Linked DNA regions of Homo sapiens: region 2 is linked to region 1. Evidence: fine-mapped expression QTL. A gene starts in region 1. The other region holds a variant in brackets. All regions are shown on one strand. Distances are from middle to middle. Region 1 holds the start of PCNX2 (pecanex 2). Region 2 overlaps PCNX2 (pecanex 2).

Region 1 (5,380 bases):
AACACTGAAGTGCAGAGGAATATATTTAAGCACGAAGATCTGAAGAACAAAGCCTCCATTTGGGGAAGAGGGCCTTTTATTTCAAGGGCACTTTCAGAAACCAGAAGACCAAAGCAAGAAAAAAATAACCTGTCATGTTTTTAATAACGCAGGCTATATATTAAAAAGTAGCATAACAGTAACTGTACCCACATACAATTATTCTATAATAGTTAAAGGCATGCTGGCATAGAGATATAACAATTTGGGCATATCTGTTTTTTTTTAAAGTCTGATATAAAAGCAAAATTATTTAAGGTCTCAGACTTTACTTTCTAAAATTTTGAGATTTAGCTGAAAATTACATTTAAATATCATCAAAAAGCAAATTAATGAAGGACAATTTCCTACTCACAAACACAAGATCTAAATCAAGCTACTCAATAAAGCATAGTTAGGTAGAAATTAAGGGTTCTGACCATACGTAGACATCAAATCTTAAGTAGAGTTTTATAAAAATGAGCCCATATGCATAGGAAAAAACATCTGCAGGAACACAACATTAAATGCGAATGTGGTGGTTTCTGAGGAGTGGAATTATAGGTGGAAAATATATTGCTTTTATTCTTAGGAAATATTCAAAAAGTATAGTGAGGTAGACTATTTAATGCTAGTTGGAAAAGAAAGAGACACACAAGTTAATTATATATGAGATCAGTGTTACCAAATGCAGAGCACTCTGCTATGTACAAGGAAAAACCAAGATGAATAAACAACATAAAAATCCATGCCCTCAAAAAAGCTTATGATCTAGACATAGAAGTGAAATACATGTTCCAACAACTAAGTACCAGACAGAATTCGAAAAGTACTATTAATGCTAATAGTCTAACTACAGAATGCTGTAAAACTAATAGTAAATACAGAATGGTATAAGGGCAAGGGAGAAGAGAAATTAATTCTAGCTAAATCAGAAAACATAAGGATGGAGAGATTTTAGAAGATGGGGAAGGATTAAAAAGGGCTATCTCTTACTGAGCACTCTCTGTGTGACAGGTACTAAGAAGTACTTTCATCTATTAATTCACTCAGTTCTCATATTCACCCTATAAGGGAGGTACTGTAATTATCCCTGCTTTACAAACAAGGAAGGTGAAGCTTGCTCAAGCTCATATTAGGTCTAGTGAGCAGCAGAACCAGGATTTCACCCTGGTGAGGGCTGTGCTCCTCATGACTTTGCTATGCTGTCCCTCTAGGAAAAGAGAAACCACTGGGGCCCATAGGCTAAGGAAAAATGGGTTAAGAAAAATGGTGCGGAGAATCAGAAAGAAGAAATAAACTTGCATTTATTGCAGGGTTTCCAAGCAGTTTCTGTATTTAATGCTTTTTATATATAATTTTGGTTAATTTTTCTGTGAAGTGGTGATTGTGATGATCACATCCGTTTTAATGATATGAATGCTAAGTTTTAGAAAAGTTCAGTATCAGACCAAACAGCTAATAAGTAGCAGAACAGAATTGTAAACCCAAGGCCTGAGTCCAATCTCAGGTCAAGACAGACCTGTGGCTTTATATGTACTATCTCATTTAATCCCTAAAACAATCTGTAAATCTGGTACTATTACTTTTTCTCATTTTACAGATAAGAAAATGAAAAATGAGATATGGTAAATAACCTCCCCAAGGTCACAGAACTGGTAACCAGTAGACCCAAAATTTAACCTAGGCATCATGACTTCACACCCAGAGTTCTGACCCTTTGGATACACTGCCGGAAAAAGAGTAAAGAGAAACCCAATCACAAATGTCAAACTCGGAATCCATCAGTCATGCAAACTCATTGACGATTTTTGCTGTAAAAAAAATGATCAAATAATGTGTTAGGAATAAAGTCCTCCAACCGACATACCAAAATTAGATTCTTGGCACGTAAAGTTTAATAAGACATGGAACACCTTACCTGTACAGCTTTTCAAAGCAGGTAAACCATTGTTTTAATTACGTATAATTTACCTAAGAAGGCCATCTATGTAGTTCTTCAGCAAGCACTCACTTACCATAACCCCACTAAAATGTCAAGCCCCATCTAAATGTTGTAATACTTTGTTTAGCATAAAGTACATTAGATTTATCCATTATTATATCTTCCTACAGATTTCTATACATAGTGGTGTAGAAATTACAATGTGAGTAACTGATAACTGAACTGCCTTCTCAAAGCAAAACAAGAAAGAAGGTGAGGGGGGAAAAAGGGGACAATAACTGAAATGAGTCTGCTTTTTACATTTCGTTTTTCCTCTTGGCTACAATCTACAGCATTTCACACCAAACATTATCCCAAGCTACCCAGCTCTAAGGCCTAGAGTTACCCACCTACAAAACAGGCTGCACGCTCCCTGCCACAAGCAGAGTGACTCATCCTAACATCCGGCATCAATTCTTAATGAGTCCCCGAGCCCCCGCAGTCCTGTCTACTTCTTTTCTTTTCCAGTGAATCCTCACAGTCCCCTTTCCCTGCATGTTCTCTGTCCCAAATTTCTGAAGCCCCTCCCTTTCCGTCTCTTAAGAATCTCTACGAACCCGAAAGCCCGTGAGGCTGATGGCACGTCTGTGGTTCCTTTCTCCTTCTTCCCTCCATACCCACAGCTCCCCGGGACCGGACCCTCCCCACTCACCAGGTGCAGGGCCAGGGGCAGCAGCAGGAGGAACAGCCACAGGTAGAGGTGGCAGCTGTTGGTGAACTTGCTCTGCTCCGGGTCGTGGTACCAGCCCCCGGTGAGCGCGGCCCACACGCCCTGCCGGAGCAGCTGCAGCACCTGGGACACCATGCCGGCTGCGCCCCGGGGCTGGTGAGCGCCCCGCTGCACCCTGCGCGCCCCGGCCGGATCTCCAGGCTCCCTCAGGTCTAACACCCGGGCCCGCGGGCCGCGCCCCCGCCGTCGCCGCCGCCGTCGCCCCCGCCGCCTCCTTCCACCCCACGTTTGAAGCTGGAGCTGCTCTTCCGCCCGGACCCGCGAACCGCGGCGCCGGAGCCGGCTGCTGCGGCCGGGCAGGTGAGCGCCATGTCCGAGGGAGGAAGGATTTTCCCATCGTGCTCAGAGGCGGCTGCTCAGAGGTTGCTTCCGAGGCTCCTCCCAACGCCCGCCCAGTCCCTCCTTAGCCTTCGCTGGGGGCCAGAAGGATTTCTGTGAGTGCCTCCAGCCTTTTCTTTCTCTCTTTCTCTTTTTCTCTCTTTCTTTCTCTCTCTCTTTTTCCTTCCTCCTCCCTCCCTCTCTCTCTCTTTCTTCCTTCCTTCCTTCCTTTCTCTCTCTCTCTCTCTTTCTTTCTCGCTCTTTTTTTCTTTCTTTCTTTCTTTTTTTTTTTTGCCTCTCCCCTCTTCCCTTCCCCTTCTCTCTGATCCTCCTGTTAGGGGACGTGCAAGGGTGTTCTCATGCAGAAGGCACAGACCCAGGACACGTTCCTTGTCCTTGTCCTTTTTTGCACCCAAGTATTTACCTCATACAAGGTCCTGTCACACAGCACTCAAAGTAATTTCTTCTCCTGAGCACTTCCTGCACGACTTCATTCTCCTTAATTAAGGGCTGACCCCAGACGTTCTATTAATCTAAGCTCTACCTGGTCCTCTGCCACTGATCTTCTGTCCTCCCTGACTGTTTCTCCTCCACTCCCTGTTGTCCAACTTGGTGGAGAAAGAAGATAACCACCTTCCTGATAAAATTTTAGGAGCTTCAGTTAGCCTTAGTTTTTTATCTCTTTCCTAGAACATAATCCCAGGTATTTAACTGGCTATATAGAACATTAGTCTAAATCTCTCTATGCTGTTTAGACAGGAAGACCCACTGGACAAAAAATTAATAATCTTTAAGCTATTATATATTTTATCATTTACAGTGGATACAGTTTAGATTCTCTTTTGAGAGTGGGTTTTGGAAAGGGAAGAGATAAAAAGGAGCTTGTCTTCCTTTGGGATGAGGAGCAGAAGCCCTGTGTGAGCTAGAGCCTTAGGGAGAGACAAAGATTAGAGGGCTCCATGATTCCCAACACGCCTTCCCTGCATCATCCTTACCTGGTCTGTCCCAACACATCACACTCCTCTGACTTGTGTGCCTGCCTGTGTCCTGGCCATGTTCTGGTCTGCAGCAGCACTTACTTATGGCTGCCCTAGTCAGGCCCAGTAAAGGCACACCAGCCTTCCCAGGCTGAAACGAAGATAAGGACAGGCCCATCATGAGGAGAGGGCCCAGGACATGAAAGGCCACTGAGTTACAGCAAAAGCCTCACTATGGTGTGTCTGCCATCAGCTATAACCACTCTTCCTTCTACTTTACATTCATCAGTAGGAATGAATCATCAAAATGGAATATGGCTGCTTTCTGTACTGGAAGAGTAATTTTCTTAAAGACACAGCTTGTAAACAAATGGGCTTTTTTGTATATCTGCTCAAAATGCTTGTAACCTACCAGGTGCTGTATAAGTGTTTAATGGGTTAATCAACCAATCAACTCCACATTAAAGGAGCGCCGTCACGTGCATGGGTATAGGAGGAAAGGTCATGCAACAGTCTGTTCCCACATGGAGGTTGTGTCCTTGTTCACTTGTCCTGATTCATCAAATATTTACTCAACACCTTCTGGGTGTCAAGCATTTTGCAGAAGACTAAGAAAGCAAATGTAAGTCAAATATAGTCCCTACCATGAAGGAGTTAATAAACCACAAGAGGAGGCAGGAAAATCAAAGACTTGCAATAAAATGTGCTGCCTGTTATCATATTGTAGAAATGGACACATATCCAGATATATGGAAGCACTGGGGCACTGTGGAGTGCAGAAGACATGTGTAAGTCTGTGAGGGAGGGGTGGTGTCAATAAGCACCAGGGAACTGGGTCTTAAAGCTAAATATTAGCTCTCAAGGCATGTAAGTGGGAATAGTTCTCCAGGCACATGTATATGTGGAAAGAGGAGCATGGCAATTTGGGGAAAATGTCAGGATAGTCTAACATGTCTGGAAGGTAGGGCTGGGAATGGGAGAAACGGAACAGTAGGAAACTTAATGAGATAAGCAAAGGTCAGTCTCCTGGGCCATACAAAGTTCTTCAGATCTTATCCTAGGCAATGGACAAGAACTGGAAGGCTGAAGCATGCATGTGACATGATCGATAGTACAGGGGCAAATGCTGAACACCTGAACCAGCAGGAAGGGACAAAATGTTGAGGGATCATATATGATCTTAAGGCTTAGAGATCAATTCAATGTGGAGATAAAGGGATAAGGAATGTAATGATTTTCCATTTTGGGTTGAGATGACTATACTGTAAAACTAATCCATTTATAAGATATAGGAAGATTAGCAGTGAAAGATGACTACACTGAATTTGAGTTGCTGAGGGACTTTGCAAGCCA
Region 2 (5,380 bases), 240 kb before region 1:
TTGACCAAAGTTTCTGAAACCTTCTAGATCCTGGATCATGGAATGCTTTACCTTTAAGGATATTATCATGCTGATGTTTTTCCAAAGAATTTTTTTTTCCTAAAAGACGAATCTCAAGGTTTATAGTCTGTGTTTGAGGTTTACTGCACACGAACTAAAATGTCTTGATTAACAGGGGTATGCAATACTGAGCAAGGTCCTAATCAATTCTAAATAGCGGAGCAATGCATTGTCAAACCAAATCAGGTTGCTTGATCACTCTACCTGCACAGTTTTATTCCACATTCAGCAGATTAACTAAGATGTGCATTGTCTCCACAATGAGTACAGAGTGAGTATTTAATTCTTCCTTTTGAGAATCCATCCATACAACAATAAATAGTTGAAAAAGAGAGAAGAGATCTTCTTACCTGGATCTCTTTCAATTTGGACTGCCAGTCTTGTGTTGGAATTATCCACTCGCCTTGTACTAGAAGAGGCCACAAAAGGGTAAAAGGTCATGATTAGATCCCCCCAAGCAGAAGAGTTGGTTTATAGAACCAGCTGCATGAGTGGAAAATGCAAAGGTGACAGATCTCACAGGTTAAGACGATTGCTGTAGTTTTACCACACTGCAGGAAGAGAGGAGTCTCATGATAAGAGATAGAGGGAGCAGTACAAGAAACACATGGAAGGGAGAGATGAGTAGCTCTCTGATTTGGAGAGAACGGTCTTGTGTCTTAATCAATTTGGAGCACCAGATCTGCAAAATCAAAGCAAGTATTTAGGCTGAGCACGGTGGCTCATGCCTGTAATCCCAACACTTAGGGAGGCTGAGGCAGGCAGATCATTTGAAGTCAGGAGCTTGGTACCAGTCTGGCAAACAGTGTGAAACTCCATCTCTACTAAAAATACAAAAAGATTAGCCATGTGTGGTGGCACACTCCTATAATCTCAGCTACTTGGGAGGCTGAACTTGAATCCAGGAGGCCGAGGTCGCAGTGAGCCGAGATTGCACCACTGCACTCCAACCTGGGTGACAGAGCAAGACTCAAAAAAAAAAAAGCAAGTGTTTAAACTGCCAATGTAATGCTACCCACTTTCAGAACTTGAGAACAGTGTCCACAAAGGTATCTTTCTCTTCAAATTGATTTCAGGAAATGGTGGTGAGTAGTCAACGTCTCCACCACCTGCTTTCAAGAGTGGGGTATACTCTTATAGACCTTTCTTAGGTTGAACCATGAGAATGAAAGCTCTCGGATCATCTGCAGCCATGGTAACAAGTGGCCACTAGAACCAGCTTTGAACCTATTCCATCATGTAAACACCCCTCAGTGCACAGCTTTTGTAAGGCAGCCAGTCCATGACAACCCCTGGCTTCTGAGAGTTAGCCGACTCACTGCAGACTTGAGGGGCAACTGATGAATAACAGGCTTTTCAAGTAACCACCTATACAGATGCCATCAACCCATGTATGCCTCCAAAACCTCACCAGTCCTTGAACTCCACACATCCCCAAAACCCTTTGTAAGTGCAGCGATCTGCTCTCTTGGAGAGGCTATGCCAGCCTACCTTTGTCCTTTTATTTCCAACAATGAGTGGCGGTCTTTAAAGAATGAAATATGAAATTGACATCAGGCCTATGAAATTGACGATAGTCAACTGTTTATTATCACCTACAAAATGGCAATTTCATATGGTTAAATCTGATATATTCGCCATTAAGAAAGGGCTTCCACAAATATATCAGCATCACACATAGGGTTTACTTAAGGATTTGGGCATAATGAAGGTCCCACTGACAATTGTAGAAAGCCTGGTCTTGAACACATCTGGCTCCTGCTTTTTCTTTTTCTTTTCTTTTCTTTTTTTTTTTTTTTTTTTGAGATGGAGTCTCGCTCTGTCACCAGGATGGAGTGCAGCAGTGCAATCTCGGCTCATGGCAACCTCCGCCTCCTGGGTTCAAGCGATTGTCCTGCCTCAGCCTTCCCAGTAGCTGGGATTACAGACATGCGCCACATGCCCAGCTAATTTTTGTATTCTTAGTAGAGACGGGGTTTTACCATGTTGACCAGGATGGTCTCGCTCTCTCGACCTCATGATCCACCTGCCTTGGCCTCCCAAAGTGCTGGGATTACAGGTGTGAGTCACAGCGCCTGGCCAGCTCCTGCCTTTTCTATCACTCCACCCTTTGCTTTCTTTGCTCCAAGCCTGTTGGTTTTCCTTTTCCACCCCTTCAGCATGCCCAGACCTCTTAGTCCTGTCATTCCTTCCTCTCCAGTATCCTTTGCAAATGTTCCCTCTACTTAGGGATCCCTTTCCATTCCCACTCATTTTTCCTCATTGACTCCTCTCATCCTTCAAGTCTCAGCTCAAGTATCACCTTCTCAGGGAAGCTGCCTTGACTCCTGTGCTGCTTGAGATTCCTTTGTCATGTTCTCTTTCACATGTTGTACCTGTACCTCTCTTTTGGAGCACCTGTCAAGGCTAACATCAATCATAACAATGGCAGCTAACATTTATGTAGCACTTGCTTGTGTCATGTGCCTGTTCTAAGTACTTTATATGTATTGGCTTATTATTGCCTCAAAACTACCCTCTGAGGTAGGTACTCATTATACCCATTCTCACGGCGGATGAGGCAGAGGCACAGAGAAATTAAATAGAGTGCTCAAGGTCACAGATCTAACAGGTGGCACAGCCAGAATATGACCTAGGGAGGCTGGCTTAGGAGCCTTTACTTTACACCACATCATACATCT[CTT/C]TGTGTAATTATCTGATGATATCTGACTCTTACATCAGTCCCTAAGTACCATGAGAGTAAGTTTGTTGCTCACAACTGGCACATAGTAGTCACTCAATAAATATTTGCAGAATAAATTATTGAATGGTCAAAGATAAGGCTACTTCTGAAGTTCTTGTCCTTATAATATTTGCTAAGAAGAAACAAGACTAGCTGCCAGTCAATGCTGCATATGTGGCTTATGTTTAAACATGATCATTGACATATTCTGTATAATTTAATAAATGAAAAGCACTTGTCAGAAATGGTGCTTAAGAAGAAACCTAAGAATGCAGCCTTCTTTTGTGAACTTGTCTTTTGGGAATAAAAACAGATAAAAAGATATTTGGTTGGAACTATAATTTGAATAAATGAAAAGGCTTGTCTTCAGAAAAAAAAAGTATTCTTTCTTTTCATGTATGTCTTAGACATTTGGGAACCATCTAGGCAAGATCCTGTTGAGTTCTGTGATGCTACGGATGGATTGGAGAGAAGAAATACTGTGTTACATTTCAGAAAGGCTGTGAACCCAAGTATGCTGTTCTATTACAGCTTTAGTTTTCCTTACAAATACTCTCATAGCAGCTTTGAAAAATGAAAGATCTCAGGGTAGCAGAAAATCCAGCAACCAACAAAATTCTTTTTAATGAAGGCTGAAGTCCCACGTCTGCATAGTTAGTCCCTAAATGGAATTTTAATTTCACCTTAAGACCTACCACAAATGGAATTTTCAAGCAGCAGAATAAACAACTTTTAAAGGAGGATTAAGACAAAAGAAAATCATTTACTAAACTCCTTAGGGAACTAAAACACCTTCTAAAACTATGTTCACTGGAAAGCTATCTTTTCAGAAGCCTATAGAACACAGTCTAAATTCTGATGAGCAATAACTAAGTTAAGCTGCCTGTGTACCCCCAGGACCTCTGGCTCTCCACACATTCTCTAAGAGGGTGGACTGTCAGCCACACTGGGTAATTTGAGTTTTCTCCAGTGCTTTCCTCCTGTAAATTTGGTGCTTACCCCTCAAAGGTGCTAATTAGCTCAGTAATTGGATTTCTGCCTTAACTGTCCAATCAAATGAACATCAGCTCTGTAGCTCAAAGAGGAAACAGGGCTTATAGCTCACTCCCCAATCTCAGTGGGAACATGCAATCCTGGTACACATTAGGCATGCGTCTGCATGCATGGTCTTCCTAGCACTTGCCTGACAAAGTCACTGTGCATTGCTGGCTAATGCTGTCCTGAGCACTACAGAACAAGAGTCGTATAACAGGACTCTCCAGAGAAGCGGACTTACTGAGAAGCACCCCTCTTTTATGTTAATACAAAATGCAGAGAGCAGAGCTGGCTTCTTCCCTTCAAACTTGGCCTTTCCACCCCATGGCCAGTCTCTCTAAGTCAAGCACCTTCTCTCTCAGTTTCATCTGAACAACTTAAATAATTTAAAAGTAATTTTCTATATTGATAATGCTTCAAATTCCCCTTTGTCAGTACACACAGTCTATGGTAAAAGTTGTCTTATTTTTTGGTGAGGAAATACTGCTGGCCGGAGTGAGAAGTTTGGTGGGGGTCTGTTCATATAGCAAATCCAAGACAGAGTTAAAAATAGACTGTAATTCTATTCATAGGCAGACCAACCTTAAAGAAATCTGGACAATGAAAAGGCAGCCAGAGTTTAAATACAGGGGTACTGTCTCCTTTAAAATTGATTATATGCACAAGGTACAGCTAGGTTTGTTTTTCTGCCCTTAATTGCTGCTGCTACTAACAATCGTATTAGCTCTTGCAAAGTCAATGGCACTCTGCTGTCACCACGCAGCTCAGAATGATTTGGCACGAGACATTTCCTGAGGACATACTGCTGTACACCCATCAGGGTGAGCACTGCCTCGGATCAGCGCCTTCAGGTGACCTCCAGCCTTACTGGGCCTGGGTTTTGACTTTTCATACATTTGCCCTCCAAGACCACAAACAGCTCAGTTTGGCTGTTTCTTTTTTCAGGTTTGGCAGATGGTCTTGAATAAAAATGGTTATGAGTGCTGGGTGCTTTCCTTCTACTGGATTTTGATCTGAATTTTCAGTACTTTGAAGGTTTTGAGCAACCAACAACTTTGAGTTTAAAGAAAGTTTTGTTGGTTTTTTTCTTTATATTTATTTTTGTTGTTATTGTTTTGTATTTGTTTTTGTTTTTTTTGAGACAGAGTCTTACTCTGTCGCCCAGGCTGGAGTGCAGTGGTGCGATCTTGGCTCACTGCAACCTCCGCCTCCTGGGTTCAAGCGATTCCCCTGCCTCAGCCTCCCGAGTAGCTGGGATCACAGGCATGCACCACTACGCCCAGCTAATTTTTGTATTTTTAGTAGAGATGGGGTTTCACCATGTTGGCCAGGCTGGTCTCAAACTCCTGACCTCAGGTGATCCACCTGCCTCGGCCTCCCAAAGTGCTGGGATTACAGGCATGAGCCACTGCGCCTAGCCCCTTTCTTTGTATTTTACCCAGTTTTCTTTAGCTGCCCTCACTGGGGAAAATTGGTTGTAAACACCTAGCATGTCATTACTAGAAATTGAACTACTATTGTAGTTTGTAAGAACTATGAAAGTGAGCTCCTTTTTAATTGCCT

What was found. PIP is the estimated chance that this variant, and not a neighbour inherited with it, causes the effect. A credible set is the group of variants that fine-mapping cannot tell apart.
Region 2: its variant is the best candidate, but not a certain one, in a credible set for the expression of PCNX2 in whole blood (TOPMed, PIP 0.64).

The regions. Positions count from the first base shown.
Region 1 is chr1:233,292,672-233,298,051 of GRCh38, forward strand. PCNX2 (pecanex 2) reads right to left here and starts at 3,054. Exons shown (of 34, transcript NM_014801.4): 1 at 2,655-3,054. The coding sequence starts at 2,807. RefSeq lists an enhancer at 2,440-2,489 and a silencer at 2,770-3,149.
Region 2 is chr1:233,056,822-233,062,201 of GRCh38, forward strand. PCNX2 (pecanex 2) reads right to left here. Exons shown (of 34, transcript NM_014801.4): 24 at 411-469. Among named protein-coding and RNA genes, the nearest start is that of NTPCR, 110 kb to the left of the region's middle. The variant CTT/C (reference allele first, on the strand shown) is at 2,742.